Regions from separate parts of the Homo sapiens genome. Here region 2 is reported to be linked to region 1. Evidence: microRNA targets listed by miRTarBase, many of them from high-throughput screens and not tested one by one. Region 1 holds a microRNA gene; the other region holds the end of a gene's coding sequence.

Region 1 (4,644 bases):
GCGCCAGGGAGCTCAAAGACTTGGAGCTACAAAGACTTGCGCTGGCCCCACCCAGCACGGAGACATCTTAAGGAAAGATAGCCTTCATAAAAGTGCAAAATCCAGCCTCATGCAGCTCTGGATACCATCTGCTCAGTAACACTGCACAGAGCGTCACCCAGACAAAAGGCAGGCGGTGTCAAGCTGCAGAATGTGAGGCATGTATGGCGGGACACAGCTGCCCAGCACAGGCCAGCGTTGGCAGGAAACGAGAGGACAGACAGGAACTGGGCAGGACCCCCACACGTGGCCACAACTGCGACCTCCCCGCGGAGCCACGTGGGGCTGGCCTGGGGGCTGTGTGGGGACGAGGGAAAGGGGAAGGACCCGGCTACAGGGACGAGGGGTGATCCAATCCGACATACACCGATGGGGCCTTTTAAAGAGTCTCGCTTCATGGACTGCAGGGGCAGCAGGTTTCTGGTGGGTAAGTGGAATCTGACGGGATTTCACGCTTCTTCCCTTAGGCACACCTGTTTGCCCCAACTCCCCACCCTTTGTGGGACGGCTCGAGGTCCCGCACTGTTGCTGGGTGTACCGAGCCACCCCTACATGTTGGTTGCCTTCTTTCCCTTATCAGGGCCCAGGTCTGCCTCTGTACTAGCAACCCCCGGGCACCTTTGCTCCCGGGCTCACTGGCACACATGCACTTTATGTTGAGGCAGTGGGCGCATATTCCTGATATACATATTTCCTGATCTCCTGAGCTCACACCAACAGCCTGGGATTAATCGCCCAACACCAGATAACACGTTATAAAGCTCACTTATCAGCTGGGCCTCACAGGTCTGCTCCAGCCTCATCACCCGAAAAGGCATTTAGCCAGCCCTGCTACTTGGAGCTTCTTATCACATCTGAAATCACCTGGGTGGCACTCATCAGAGTGCAGACCATTTATGGGCAGCTATAAAGGAACTGGATCCCCGAGCCAGGGGTGCAAAGACACTCAGACACCAGCTCTCCCTCCCCGGCCGGGGCTGGGCCTTCTGATCCCCGTGGTCCACACACATCCAATGAGTGGCTATTTAGTGTCAGGGAAGCCCTTCCGCCACTCACGCAGAATCAGACAGGAGGTGGGGCGGGGATGCAGTCGGGCAGGTGGACCTGAGCCCCCATGGGACCTACACTTCTAATGGAGTTGGGTGCGGGATGGGCTCAGAAGAGAGGGAGAGTGGTCCGGGCGGCGGGGGACTCTGCAAAGAGGAGTGGTTTGGAAACTCCTGCCTGGAAGCCGAGGAGACAAAAGACCCCTGTGGGAAGGACTCGTTACCTCGCTCCTGGGCTCCGGGGGGCTTTTCACGTCCAGATCATGAGCAGTTTCTTTCACTTCGTCATCAGGCTTTTCACACAGGTCCTCGGTTTCAGAAGTAATTTCTTGTGGGGAAGAAAGGGGACATGTCACTCGGATGATGACTTCTGCGTACACACGCGTTCCATATAAACGCAGGGCCCCCACGAGCTGGGGGATTTCTCACACGCCTCGGCCCAGCCTGAGCTCACCAGGCAAGCCCAGGGGCCCTACATGGACAATTTGCTGGCCAAACCCAGGCCCCCCCATCGGTAATCATTTGAAGGCCTCACCAGACTCAAGGCGGAAGCCTTCCCCGGGGGAGCGCCACCTGCCAGTCACAGGGAGCAGAGCTGCCAGCACCTGGCGGATGAGCTCCCCATTCAGCCCGTTTCCTGCCGTAAGCTTTAAATGCAGCAGTTTCCATCTCATCAGGGTGACTTTCCTATGCCAGAGACACATCTGTCCCAGGAAGTCAACTCCTCAAGAGAAGGGCGACGCCGCCGGCCACCGGCCAGGTAAGTCCCCGGGAAGAGCATGGCTGCACCTGAACTTCAGGCTCCCATACAGACTCCTCTGGGTGGCAAGCCCAACCCTGGTGGGGAGCAGGGGGCGGATGGTTGGAGGCAACTCAGTTCCAGCTGCCGTGGCCGAGCCGTGAGTACCAGAGGCCGCAGGCAGGTGCTGGGTCCAACCTATCTGTGCAGGGCTCATTTCGGCCCACCTGTTACACGCCTTGTTTCTCACCCAGGCCTGGTCCCTCACCCTGTCCTGTCTGTCACCTCTGTCTCCTGTGACACCCACAGAATGTGGCGGGGAGACCCCGGGGTGCTCACCTTGGAAGGTGGGCCTAACTCGCGGATCCCCCTGCCAGCACCGCTGCATGAGGCGTATCAGGTGGCTGCAGGCGCGCGGCCGGGCTCTGCACACGGGCGGCAGCTCGGGGCGGTGGCCCTTCACCACCTTCACCATGATGTGCAGGATGTTCTTCTCATCTGCCAAGGGAAGGATGCGAGTCAGGGGCTCTGCAGGGCTGGGTGGCAGCATCTCACCCTTGGGAGGAAACGACACACTCGCCGGGGGCCACAATGGGGCCATCCCCACACCACCCCAGGGAGACGGCTCCCCCACTCCGTTTCAAAGGCAGAGCTTCCTGTAACCCTCACCCTCATGGTGCGCCATGCTCTCTAGTTTCCTGGTTTTGAAATCGACCTCTTTCCCTGGGTTCTGATCTACCAGAAGGAGTCAGTGTGTTTGGTCACAGAGCAGATCTTTCTAGGCATCCCATCCAAAGGAAGATGAGGTTCAAAGGAGAACAATATCTTATGAGGCTCATTCCATCAACAGCCCAAGCCAGCAAAGGGAATGAGGCTCACGCACCATGGAGGAGCCACAGCGTCCTACATCCACAGAGACCCAACTCTCTCTACAATGGCGAAGAAGTCTTCCTCAGTTCCAACTCCAATCCCAAGCTCAGGTCCCCAGCTGGCCTCCCCTGCCGGTGCACCAGGGCTGGGATGTGTGGAAGGGCTCTTTCCCCTCAATTCACCATGTGGGGCCGCACCTGTCCTTTCCAACTGCCTTCACTAGCATGCATGGGCTCTAGCTTATTATTATTATTGCCACAACTTCTACCCTGACTGGGAAGGGCCCAGGGTGACATCCAGTGGGCCAAGTTCTTTTTTCTGCTTAGCCTGGAACCCTCAAGGTTCTTGTTCCCAACAGCCCTCTCTGCCCTCCAGATCCAAACACACCCACGCATGGAATGGCAGCTCTTTGGAGAGGCCATGTGCCTCAGCAGGTGTGGAAAATCAGCCGAGAATCACCCACGGCTGCCAGGATTCCATACAATGTTTTGCTCCACTTTCCCATTAAATCTTGTGCAATAAATATCGTTAAGTGTTTAGCAGGCTATTTCCATGATTATTCAGACTTCAAAACCAACAGCTCCTCTAAATAAAATGGAAGCAAACTGAAGTAAACGCCCGGAATGTTTCCTGCTGCCAAGCACAGACTGGAAAAGCTGGGGAGAGGCCTTGTTCTCCTGCACCTTGAACCCCCTCCTACCCATTTTTGCCTGAGGTTGCAATTTTTTGAATTTGAAAAATCAGACCTTGGCGATGACCTTGAACAGTAGGACACGAATAATTCCCATATGATTAGCGTTCCAATAAGGGAACACTAGGCATATTCAGCAATAAAGCACAAGGGCTTGAGCCTTGACCTGTCCCCTGCGCCTAGCTTCGGGTGTCACATCTATCAGACACTGCCTCATTTCACAAGCCTTCGGGCTGTAGGCCACTGTGCGGGAGAACGTACAGAAGGCAAGAAAGGCGACAGGCGGTCAGACAACACAGACGGACACCGGCCAGCAGAGGCCTGGCAGGACGCGTTCTGTGCTTTCTACTGACATTCTTTTAAAGCTGCCAAGATACTTGATCTTGCGATGCTGGAAGATCTCTTCTCACCCCAGCACTTTCCCATACATCGGCTCCTAGTCTGAGCCCCGACTAACAAGGGGCTAGGCCTTGACTCTCATCTTCATTTTTAGACATTTTCGGTCACACCACAAAATATCATGAGTAGCCCAGAAATGTCTTTAGAGGAAAAGGGAATCTGTCCAACAAAGCTAAAAAGTCCTGGATTTTTATGATAAGTAAGTCAAGGTGTGACAACTTTGAGGATGGTGTTCGGAATGGTGGCTGCCTGGCTGGGGAAGCAAACACCACAGCTCTCAAGCTGGGCAGGGGTGCCACTCCTGCAAGCAACTCCATGGCACTGAGCAGCTCTGGAGGTTGGCTGCGCAAGCACGCGGGTACATGTAATGCTCCTGAACTGTATGCTTCACACGGCTGACATGCTAAGTTTTGTTCTGTGTATTTTATGACTATTTTTTTAAAAAGTAAACAAAAAAGAATTAGCTGGAAATACCAGCACAGGCAAACCCCTGGAGACAGAAAGCAGGTGAGTGGTTGCTGGGGCTTGAGCAGGAGGAAGGGCGAGGGACTGCAGAATGGCCATGGGCTTTGCCTTCTAGCATGATGAGAATGTTCTGGAATTAGACAGTGGTAACGCTTGTTCAACACTGCCAGTGTAGTTAATGTCACTGAATTATACACTTTAAATGGCTAACATGACCAATTTTATGTTATATATATTTTACTACCACAAAAAAACTAGCTGGCACCTAAAAACATTCCATTGAACAGGCCCCTTCAGATCTGTGTCTTTTCCTGCATGCAAATTACACCACAGAGCAGCACCTATGGCAGCGTGGATCACAGGCTCTGTTTTAGGATAGAGAAAGGACAACAAGG
Region 2 (4,263 bases), not on the chromosome of region 1:
ATGCTACAACTACGCTGGGTTAAACATGGGTTACATACATGTTTACATGTGTTTTATAATACAGCATTGCCCAACATATGAATGGTATAGCCTATAGATAGAGCATGATGGATGACCGGGTAATATTTATCATCTTTAAAGAAATTAAACAGCCCAAACATTCAGGAAGATTAGACTGTACAGACTCAGAAAGTAAAAAAGTACTATCCAGTTATCTACCATAATATTATCTATAGAAACCATATTTTAGAATACATTTGAAACATTCAGAAGAAACACATTTTGTGTTTTTATGAGTACATTTTTCTCGTTTGATTATTCTTATATATATATTTTAAAAGGGGAACTTTCAAAGTGCTAAATAATATCCTAGACCTGGAAACTTATACATTTAAAAAATCCAGTTCTGTAAAGTGCTGTATTCTGACTGCTAATACACCTTTTGGCTTGCAGAGATAATACAAACTAGTCATGAAAATTGTACCCAAGCTTTCCAGCTCCTCATTCAAATCTATCAAGGAGGGGCCCTCTAACTATAAATATAAAGTATATTGGTTAAGCAGGAGACCTCCATGGTCATTTTCATAAAACATCCTTAAATTTTTTTCAAAAGGAACAAGCAATTTAGAACAAATCATTACATATAGTAGTATGTAAAAATTGGCACCTTTGAAGCAGATGATTAAACCGAAGCTATTACTTCCTTGAGCTCTCTATGACTTTATTTACGGTCCTCAGTAACTTGCTGCTCATAAACTGCTTAATTCACAAAGACAGGTAATTAACGTCCCCTCGATCAGGGATGTGGTGGAATCAATGGGCTGAGCATAAGCTGACTGCACAAGGCCACAGAATCAATGCCACATTGCTGCACAGAGAACCCAGAAATGGAAGGAAATGGACTGAAAAATAACACACATACATGTGCACAGGAAGGAAATGGCTCATGGAAGTTACACAGTTTGTGTCTACAGTCATTTAAGTTTGGCTTATATATTTCACACGTTTCACAGACGTTAGAACTTAATTTTCATGCACAACAAAAGAATCAGGTAATTGCAAGATCAGGACTGTTGAGTATTTCGTTTCCCAGTTCCTATCCTTTTCTCTCTGAAATCACGATGAATGGAAACACTTGAGCTGAAAATTTCTTTCCCTCACTTCCAATCTGGCCCAGAATGAGGCCTTGGAGGTGTTTGATGTCAATGAATAATGTTTTCACCTCCTTCTTGGATTCCTCTATAGACCCTTCAGGGAGACTTCAGCATTGTGATTGTGCTTGATACTTAAAATCATCAACATGTTAGGATGTAAGTGCATTAAATTGGCAACATCTAATTTAAAGAACAAAAATAACAAAATCTTTGTTCAAACTCTGGTGCTGAGATTTGGCCTTCCTGAGAATCACAGAGAGATGGTCTCAAATGTAAAGTGCCTATTACAACTGCATTAACTACGAGCAAACATGGTTCCTTTCCCTCATAATCAATATAGAACCAGGGGCTCATGAACCCTTTCAAGTTATATTGCAACTTTGCATTATGTACATTTTTTTTTTCTTTCTGGAGAGAGAGCCTAGAGTTATCGTAGAGCCTCGTAGGGATTCATGACTCAAGGAAGTTTAAGAACGACTGATTTATTCTCAGACCCAGTGCATGTTTGCTGAGAGGGAAATAGCCAGCGTGGGGCCCAATAAAATGTTAAGTGTTTCTAGAACAGCTGTAAATAAGGGAGTCTGGGTGTTTGTTAGCAATTCACCTAAATGCCAAGGAGTGAAAAAGGAATTGTTTAATTCTTTACATATGTGACCTCATCACAATTTTTATACCTGAAATGCTTATTCAGAAGAGTTTTTATTTTGTTTTTTATCTTATATTTAAAGGCCATGTATTTACTTGATTTCACAAAATAAAGTAAAACTTGGTGTTTTCAATTATAATTAAACAAAAGAACCAGGTAGTATCTCAGGCCAGGAACAATAGATTGTTTTCCTTAAAGGCTTTATTCTTTTTTAAACGTTAATGAGCCAAATAGGAATCCAAAGATTTGGGGTCAAGATTTCTTTATCCCACTTCCAATCCAGATTCTGATCTAGAAGATTATGCCTCTACTTTAGAGTCTGTAACACTAGCTGGTTTAAAGTTGCGTGTCTATTCAGATTGTACGTGGTGTAAAAACTTTGTTTAGGAAAAGCGAGACTAAATGAGATGTCCTGATAGTGAGTGATTTCAGACAAAAAAGGGCAGAAGGCGAGCAGTGAGTCATTTTGACAACTCTAGTTTGATATGAGGAAAAGTCATAGGAATTTAAAAAATTCATAATTTCAACATTTGGTCTAATAGTATAATGAACTCTTTCAATGGAACTTCTTGTATATTAAAAAAAATCTTGATTATACTTCAAGGTGATAGAAAAGTCCAAGCCTCTTAAGAAAGCTCTTTATGTCCATTTATTTTATATATAAATATGTGTCTCTGCATAAATGCATATACATGTGTATAAGTGGCATATACTATAGAACTCTTTATATGGTTTATTTGCTTTCTATTTTGGTCTACTGTATCTTTTTTTATAGCTCTGTCTATAAGAAAAATATTCATGGTATGCTTGCAACTGATGGCTTTGGGTTGATACCAAACTCCCAGTCAAATCTAAGGTTATTTATAGTTTTGAAACTTCCTTAAAAAGTACTTTGGAACATTTCCATAGAAAAGATACCAGCCCTTGAAAAACTCCAATTAAATTTATGCTGAGCTCAGATTAGATGGCAAAACTCTAGGTATGAAAATATCCACATATAACCATATATTCATATACAAAATGGTCATGTGATGAGTGGTGTGAAAAATTGGCAGTTACGTCTTGGAGGTGTTCAGGAGGACGTGGTGGAGCCATGCAAATGATGACGGTCACACAGCAGCACAACACACGACATGAACGGTGAGAACAGAACATCCCACATGGCAATTTCAGGCTAGTTCTGTCCACTGTTTTTTTTTTTTTTTTTTTAAGTTCAATATTACATATTCAGTGAATGAATTCATCCATGACAGGTGAGATACAAAATAAATTAAAAAATATAAAATTATTTAATTACATTCTCCTGAGCTTGCTCGACTAGACTTGAACGCCCACTGTATATAATAAATCACTTGACTTTTGTTTTTTTAACATCAACTCTTCTTTCATTTCGATTGCAATACAAAAAGGCATTTCTGTTCCCTTATTTTCTTCAAAAAAGGATAAACAGTTGTGGCACCAGAAGTGAATAGATAAGAGACAGGTGAACTATGACTGTTACCTTGTTTTTTCTTTATAATGATCAATTACAGAAGTGTTGGCATGAGAAGGATGTGGGACGTTAGGTAGAACTGCTTGCTGCCGGCTTATACTGAATAAAGAGGATGCTCTTCATCAGTCACCAGTGATGGAGCCAATGTGAAAAGAAAACAGAATGGAAGTTTAGAATATCTCATTGTGTACGCTGGCTATTTTATTTTATTTTGCAATTTAGCCCTGCATCCTACAACTCTTGATAATGGTCAGAAATCAACAGATGCCTCCTGGCATGGAGCGTGCTCGAAGCCCCTTGTTTCCCCTGCTCTCATGGCTTTCTGCTGTGACTGCGGATACACATTCATCTCTAACCCTTCCTTCTCCCTCTCTTCCCCCTCCCTGCCCAGCAAGTGTGAACATGCCTTAAATCCCCTGTGTCTGGCACTGGGTCAGATCAAATGCTTTCTTGATCTGTGGCCCAGAAGTCACCTTTGAGTTAACACCTCCCAAAGCATTGCTTGTTTTGCTCAGCTAAGAATAAAGCAGGTATGATTCAAGGAAAGGGGAAAAACTGGAGTTGGAGAGAATTTTAGGGCTGGATTCTTGAGCCTTCTGTGGCGGATATTAAGAAGGTTTAGTTGTGCTTGCTTTCAAAGCTTTGGAAAGCCGATGTTCTGGACAGTCTCCTCATGGACAGGCTGTCCCCTCGGCCCTCCGGCTTGGAGGACTTGCTTCTCTGGAAGGGATTTCGCAGGCTTGCTGTGTTCCGCTGCCTGTCGAGTTTGTCACTGATGGAGAAGCTCTTCCTGGTGTGTGCATATGGCGCACTTGGCTCCTCTGCCGAGTAGCTGTTGGCGCGCTCTATCTTGGGAACAGTGATGTTGTTGGACAGGGTTCTCTCTGAGTTATCACCCTCCTGGGAGGATATTGCAATGGTGGCTCTGCGGCCTTTGGCCTCATTCTCCTCACTGTCAGAGCTGGGGTGAC

What was found. Region 1 holds the annotated microRNA hsa-miR-6814-5p (UCCCAAGGGUGAGAUGCUGCCA, at 2,366-2,387, opposite strand). A microRNA usually pairs through its seed, bases 2 to 8, with sites in the 3' UTR of a target mRNA and lowers its output. Matches are read on the target gene's strand: a 7mer-m8 pairs with bases 2 to 8, a 7mer-A1 pairs with bases 2 to 7 and ends in A, and an 8mer does both.
Region 2: the mRNA of TRPM3 is a reported target of hsa-miR-6814-5p. The part of its 3' UTR that is shown has no 7-base or 8-base seed match.

Annotation. Positions count from the first base shown.
Region 1 is chr21:41,744,450-41,749,093 of GRCh38, forward strand. MIR6814 (microRNA 6814) reads right to left here and starts at 2,392; the gene lies at 2,323-2,392. It overlaps RIPK4 (receptor interacting serine/threonine kinase 4), which reads right to left. Exons shown (of 8, transcript NM_020639.3): 5 at 2,164-2,322; 6 at 1,310-1,413.
Region 2 is chr9:70,532,043-70,536,305 of GRCh38, forward strand. TRPM3 (transient receptor potential cation channel subfamily M member 3) reads right to left here. Exons shown (of 26, transcript NM_001366145.2): 26 at 1-4,263. The coding sequence ends at 3,911. All of the region lies in intron 3 of KLF9-DT (KLF9 divergent transcript), which reads left to right. Among named protein-coding and RNA genes, the nearest start is that of KLF9, 120 kb to the left of the region's middle.